Homo sapiens: one gene and its partner. The protein of the gene in region 2 interacts with the protein of the main gene of each other region in a pairwise test. Each region holds a gene or a part of one and is shown on either strand. Other genes may lie near its edges.

Evidence for each region.
Region 1: the proteins of TARDBP (region 2) and CFAP100 interact in binary tests that used the Homo sapiens proteins (3 or more experiments, as listed by UniProt).

Annotation. Positions count from the first base shown.
Region 1 is NC_000003.12:126,393,663-126,397,708, reverse strand, and holds the start of CFAP100 (cilia- and flagella-associated protein 100), read right to left. Parts: upstream 2,801-4,046; 5' UTR 2,731-2,800; intron 2,385-2,730; exon of another isoform or gene 2,280-2,384; intron 1,768-2,279; 5' UTR 1,709-1,767; coding exon 1,660-1,708; intron 1-1,659. UniProt on the Homo sapiens protein: May play a role in ciliary/flagellar motility by regulating the assembly and the activity of axonemal inner dynein arm.
Region 2 is NC_000001.11:11,022,654-11,025,992, forward strand, and holds the end of TARDBP (TAR DNA-binding protein 43), read left to right. Parts: coding exon 1-1; 3' UTR 2-2,839; downstream 2,840-3,339. UniProt on the Homo sapiens protein: RNA-binding protein that is involved in various steps of RNA biogenesis and processing.

The DNA of each region.
Region 1 (4,046 bases), on a different chromosome or scaffold from region 2:
TTGCCCATGCCAACCTCCCTGACCCACCTGACTCTGAGACCCCTGGCCCTGGGTGCCAATCCTGGCTCTGCCTGTCTGGCCTGGTTTTCTCACAAATGCACAGGCCCTCAATCAATCTCGAGGAATTACCAATGCCACAGGGTCATAGGGTACCCCAACTAGGCACTCCCCCTCATACCAATAAACAAATCAATATAGTTTACATGTCCTTCAACTGTCTTGTGGTAGCATAATTATCTGCATTGTTTTATGGGCACATTGAGAGTTAATTTGTTATCTATAAACATTTCAAAGCCATCTTTGTTTTTAAACCTTATTCCAGCCCTTCTTCATTTTAAAATTTACTCTGGAGCAAAAAAAGAACGAGAGAGCGTGTGCACACCTAAGTGTAATGGTGGGGGTCACTGTTTATAGCAGCACACTTTCTGAAACAAGCTAATCACCCATATGAACAGAGAATTGGTTAATAAATTATGATACAGCCATACTGAAAGATTACTATTCTACTCAAAAGCACAAAAAGTATAAGGGAATTCTTGATGTATTGATAAGGAACAGTCTCTACAATGTATGGGTTAATTAAAAAAATCAAGGTGCAGACAGGGTTTTCATTGTGTGATCTCCGTGTAAGAAAAGAACAAACCTCATCTACACACATTTGCCTGTATGTGCACTGAGCTGGTAGCCTAGAAGAGACAGGGGACAGTGGCCATCTCTAAGGAAGGGGCACTGTATGCCTTTGACAGGGTGGGAGAGGCTTTTCACAATGAGGGGCTTTTAACACACTTTTGAATTTTGAACCATGGAATACTATGCCTGGTCAAAACCAAATTAAATTCCAATAAAAAAGCTGAAGGGCCCCAGGTAGGCCTGGGCAGCCTCCCTCAGCGTCGCCCTGTGTGAGATCTTGGCAAATGCATGCAATTCCACTAGGGCAGGCATGTTTCATCCAGGGCCTAGCGCCAGCTGACCACCTCCTTGGAGCCCAGCCTGGCATTTGTGGTCAGAGGGGTGCTGAGAGAAGCTCACCTTCACGGTGACACCTTCCTCATGGTCTGTTGTGGGTTGAACTGTGTCATCCCAATTCGTATGTTGAAGTCCCAACCCCTACTGTCTCAGAATGTGATCTTGTTTGGAAATAAGGTCTTTGCAGCTGTAATTCACTAAGCTGAGGCCATTCTGGAGCGGGGTAGGCCTCCAATCCAATGTGATGGGGTCCCTGTAAAATGGGGAAATTTGGACACAGACACACACAGGCAGAATTCCACATGGGCAGGAAGGCTGAGATGGGAGTGATGCTTCTACAAGCCAAAGAGCACCAAGGATTGCCTGCAAAGCTCTGGAAACCAGGAGAGAGGCCCGGAATGGGTTCTCGCTCAGAGCCCTTGGAGGGACCTAGCCTTTTGGACAACTTGATCTCAGACATCCAGCCCCCAGAGCTTGAGAAAACAAATGTCTGTGACTCCAGCCCCCCAGTTTGTGGTGGTGCTTTGTTACAGCAGCTGCAGGCAATCCATATGCCTTGTTTCAAGGGAAGTAGGCAGATCTATGACTCCTGCCTAGTGTTTGGTTTAGAGCTACCTTAACCTGTGAGGGAGCTGGACAGGCTCCGAAGCTGCCCCTGACCTCTGAGAGTGCCCACCCTGGCCCGGTACTTACTGTCATTGGTCATGTTCTTGGAGACTATAGTGGACGGTATCTCAGACATCTTGGCTGAGGCCCAAGAGGTTGATGCAAGGCTTCTCCTCTTCTAAAGGAGATCCTCACCTGAGGAGTGACACAGTGCTTGAGCCTGGTGGTCCCCAAGCCCAGAGCTTCCTTCCCCCTGGGTGGCTGACAGCCACCGACATTTGCTGAGGGCTCACCTTGTGGGGACACCTGCCGGCTCCCTGCCTCTCCCACCCGAGGGTCCACTCTCACCTCCTGGACTTGGCTCTAGCTGCCTACTTTTTCTGTGCTTAGAACACATCAATCTTGGCCTCAAGCCTTTGCATTTTCGGCCTCCTCGGCCAAAAAATATTCTCCCATACCCAGCTGGGGGTGCTGGGCTTCCTTCTCTTCAATTCCGAGCTCAAATGTCACCTCTTTAGAGAGACCTCTCACCATCCCATCCAAAGTGGTTTCTTCCTCCCCACCCCCATGTGGCCTTTATTTTCTTCTCTGCAATTCCCACTATCTGATTATCACTTTAAAAATCCATTCGTTGTCTATTTCCCCCTAAAATGTGAGCTCCATGAGAACAGGGGGGTCTTTTCTGCTCATCCAAGCTCCTGACATACCCTTGGCACTTCTTAACTTCATCCATTGAATGAATTTTCATTTTTGCAGGGGAGGAAGCAGAGATTCAGCGAGGTGTCCAAAGTCACAGTCAGGAGGGGCTGCCTCTGGAAAGGGCCCCCACTCTAAGCTTGTGCCATTCCTGCCGCATTCCTGCTGCAGCCCCCTATTGGGTGAGCCTGGGGTTCGCAGGGTCGCCTCCTAACACCCGCGCTCTGCAAGGCCCCGAGCCACACAGCGAGGTGCACAGGGATGGTAGGACAGATGGGGTGGATGGTAGATGGGTGTGTTTCAAGCAAGTGGCATGCGAGCGGGCAGCCTTGGAAGGCGCCTTGCAAGTCCGCTCCCGGCCACGCGCGCCCCTCGGGCCCTGGTTTCGCACCCCTGCCGCCGCCCCCACGCGCCCTCACGGACCCCGCGCGCCCCCTCTCCCCGGACCGCGAGCGCACCCACCGACCCCGACTGCCCCGGCTCGCTCCGAAGCCTCCGCGCTGCAGTTCTCAGCTCCAGGAGCAGGGCTCTTGGGTTTACGTCTCCAAGGCAACCATTCTTCAGGCTGGCTGTGACGCCACAAAGGCCGCGGAGGCTGGGCGCTTGAGGGCTGGGCCTGCGGGCCGCGGGACAGGGAGGGCGCGGGGCCGGGCTGCTGGGTCCGAGCTCTGGGCACGATGTCCTCCCTGACGCCGCCAGGACAGCGCCTGGCCCAGGCCTGGGCCTGGTGAACGCGGGTTTCTTCCTCTGAGGTTCAACACTCCGCACTTGGGTTGGCTCCTTTCATCCTGATTGGTTTATTCGCCACGTGCCAAGCACTGAAGAGGGCGTGCAGGATGGATACTTTTGGAGCAAAAATAGCCCTGCTTCTTTCCTGGGGAGGGATCGCACTTTCTAGAGGGGCGGTTTTCAAAGTATGGTCTCAGGACTAGCAGCATCGAAAATGCTGGGAACTCGTTAGAAAAGCAAGTTTTCAATCCTCGCCCCAGAATCAGAAACTCGGGGTGGAGCCCAGCAATGTGTGTCCTGACAAGTCCACGCGCGACCCCAGTGCTGGCTAGGGTTGCAAAGCCACTGCTCTACGGAGCGAGCGAGATCCATCATAGTGGGACAAGCGAGAGGATGAGGCCATACAGACCAGGGCAAGTTTTGAGCGCGCAGATCCACCAGCTGCTTGAAGCCAGGGGCACCAGGATGTCTGGTCCCCCAGCTCAGGGATCCTGTCTCCCCACAAAAAGCAGCAGCAGAAGACCCCTCTTTGAGTTCTGAACATGTTCCTAGATTTTCCCAGTATCTATGGGGATTGAGAGATTGATAAAGGCTGCTTGGAGCTGAAAGCACAGTCAGTGACTCATCTTTTCAGGGACATTTAGGGGCTTCTGGGGGGACTCTGGAGCAGTCTGCAGCCCAGCAATGTAGTCCCAGTGAGGATCCCAGCTGTGCCAGGCTCTGCCTAAGGCCGGTGTAGTGGGTGGGAAGACCACATCCACAACAGGAACTCCATTGGAGCTGGGGGTGGGAGTGAGGAGGAGCTCCCAAGATGGAAGGAGCAGGGATCCCTGAATCTTCGCTGGTAGAATAGTGTCCCAACTTGCAATATCCACAGTGGGCTTTGCACAAGGGAGGAAGAATGTTGTATTGTGTTAAGCCACATATGTGATTTGTGCATGTGTGCATGTGCACATGTGTGCACATGTAGTGTGTGTGTGTGCATGTGTGCACGTGTGTGTTCGTTACAGCTGCTATTGTCAAATGTGCTGAAAGACAAGTTGTCCCTT
Region 2 (3,339 bases):
GACAGTGGGGTTGTGGTTGGTTGGTATAGAATGGTGGGAATTCAAATTTTTCTAAACTCATGGTAAGTATATTGTAAAATACATATGTACTAAGAATTTTCAAAATTGGTTTGTTCAGTGTGGAGTATATTCAGCAGTATTTTTGACATTTTTCTTTAGAAAAAGGAAGAGCTAAAGGAATTTTATAAGTTTTGTTACATGAAAGGTTGAAATATTGAGTGGTTGAAAGTGAACTGCTGTTTGCCTGATTGGTAAACCAACACACTACAATTGATATCAAAAGGTTTCTCCTGTAATATTTTATCCCTGGACTTGTCAAGTGAATTCTTTGCATGTTCAAAACGGAAACCATTGATTAGAACTACATTCTTTACCCCTTGTTTTAATTTGAACCCCACCATATGGATTTTTTTCCTTAAGAAAATCTCCTTTTAGGAGATCATGGTGTCACAGTGTTTGGTTCTTTTGTTTTGTTTTTTAACACTTGTCTCCCCTCATACACAAAAGTACAATATGAAGCCTTCATTTAATCTCTGCAGTTCATCTCATTTCAAATGTTTATGGAAGAAGCACTTCATTGAAAGTAGTGCTGTAAATATTCTGCCATAGGAATACTGTCTACATGCTTTCTCATTCAAGAATTCGTCATCACGCATCACAGGCCGCGTCTTTGACGGTGGGTGTCCCATTTTTATCCGCTACTCTTTATTTCATGGAGTCGTATCAACGCTATGAACGCAAGGCTGTGATATGGAACCAGAAGGCTGTCTGAACTTTTGAAACCTTGTGTGGGATTGATGGTGGTGCCGAGGCATGAAAGGCTAGTATGAGCGAGAAAAGGAGAGAGCGCGTGCAGAGACTTGGTGGTGCATAATGGATATTTTTTAACTTGGCGAGATGTGTCTCTCAATCCTGTGGCTTTGGTGAGAGAGTGTGCAGAGAGCAATGATAGCAAATAATGTACGAATGTTTTTTGCATTCAAAGGACATCCACATCTGTTGGAAGACTTTTAAGTGAGTTTTTGTTCTTAGATAACCCACATTAGATGAATGTGTTAAGTGAAATGATACTTGTACTCCCCCTACCCCTTTGTCAACTGCTGTGAATGCTGTATGGTGTGTGTTCTCTTCTGTTACTGATATGTAAGTGTGGCAATGTGAACTGAAGCTGATGGGCTGAGAACATGGACTGAGCTTGTGGTGTGCTTTGCAGGAGGACTTGAAGCAGAGTTCACCAGTGAGCTCAGGTGTCTCAAAGAAGGGTGGAAGTTCTAATGTCTGTTAGCTACCCATAAGAATGCTGTTTGCTGCAGTTCTGTGTCCTGTGCTTGGATGCTTTTTATAAGAGTTGTCATTGTTGGAAATTCTTAAATAAAACTGATTTAAATAATATGTGTCTTTGTTTTGCAGCCCTGAATGCAAAGAATTCATAGCAGTTAATTCCCCTTTTTTGACCCTTTTGAGATGGAACTTTCATAAAGTTTCTTGGCAGTAGTTTATTTTGCTTCAAATAAACTTATTTGAAAAGTTGTCTCAAGTCAAATGGATTCATCACCTGTCATGCATTGACACCTGATACCCAGACTTAATTGGTATTTGTTCTTGCATTGGCCAAAGTGAAAATTTTTTTTTTTCTTTTGAAATCTAGTTTTGAATAAGTCTGGGTGACCGCACCTAAAATGGTAAGCAGTACCCTCCGGCTTTTTCTTAGTGCCTCTGTGCATTTGGGTGATGTTCTATTTACATGGCCTGTGTAAATCTCCATTGGGAAGTCATGCCTTCTAAAAAGATTCTTATTTGGGGGAGTGGGCAAAATGTTGATTATTTTCTAATGCTTTGTAGCAAAGCATATCAATTGAAAAGGGAATATCAGCACCTTCCTAGTTTGGGATTTGAAAAGTGGAATTAATTGCAGTAGGGATAAAGTAGAAGAAACCACAAATTATCTTGTGCCTGAAATCCATTAAGAGGCCTGATAGCTTTAAGAATTAGGGTGGGTTGTCTGTCTGGAAGTGTTAAGTGGAATGGGCTTTGTCCTCCAGGAGGTGGGGGAATGTGGTAACATTGAATACAGTTGAATAAAATCGCTTACAAAACTCACACTCTCACAATGCATTGTTAAGTATGTAAAAGCAATAACATTGATTCTCTGTTGTACTTTTTTGTAACTAATTCTGTGAGAGTTGAGCTCATTTTCTAGTTGGAAGAATGTGATATTTGTTGTGTTGGTAGTTTACCTAATGCCCTTACCTAATTAGATTATGATAAATAGGTTTGTCATTTTGCAAGTTACATAAACATTTATCAATGAAGTCATCCTTTAGACTTGTAATCGCCACATTGTTTCATTATTCAGTTTCCTCTGTAAAGGGATCTTGAGTTGTTTTAATTTTTTTTTTCTGCATCTGAATCTGCATGATTTCCAAACCCTGTACCATCTGAATTTTGCATTTTAGCACTTGCACTATTACTCAGCAGCAGTAACATGGTAACACTTAAAATGGTACTCGGGGACCTCCAAAGACTAAACTGACAAGCCTTCAAGGAGCCCAGGGGTAAGTTAACTTGTCAACGGCATGGTTTAATCCCTTCTTTACACTTGTGTAAATTTCAGTTACTGGTCATAGAAGGCTTTCAATGTTGAGTGGCCTTTTATTAACATGTTTATGGTACTGCATAGATACGGGTATTTATTTTACCCTAAGAAGATTTTGAAGTTTAAAAGTACTTAAACTATTTGGCAAAGATTTGTTTTTAAAAATCTATTTGGTCAATCTAAATGCATTCATTCTAAAAAATTTTTTGAACCAGATAAATAAAATTTTTTTTTGACACCACAGTTTAGTGTCTGGAGTCTTACTGGAAAAACACGATTTCTTTTTATATGTGATATACAGATGCTGGAAAGTTACCTTTAAAAATTGAGTCTCTAAAGAAAAAAGAAAATAATAAAAATTGAGTCTCAAGAAGTTGTACTTCATATGCACAAGAGAAATGAGGCCAAGACTCACAGTAAGCTTTTACATGGAATGGTAACTTTTAGTTAGACTGAAAAACTTGAATGTTAGCTATTAAAACCTTTTAGGAAGGAATAGCCAGCTAAAACCAAATGAGATTTTTAAAGTTAAATCAGCACTTAAGTTGTGTCCTTAGTAGGAAAAAGTAGGAAGTTAACTACTCCGTAATCCAAGAGATAATGTGTAACAGTAAGAATGATTTTGTTGTTGTTGAGTATGAGCAAAGTAGCCCCTAAGTGTGTATTAGGGTTCTGTACTTAACTGTTGTGTGATGTGTGCTTTTGTTAGGCATCACTGTGCCCAAGTATTTCATGTTCATTGT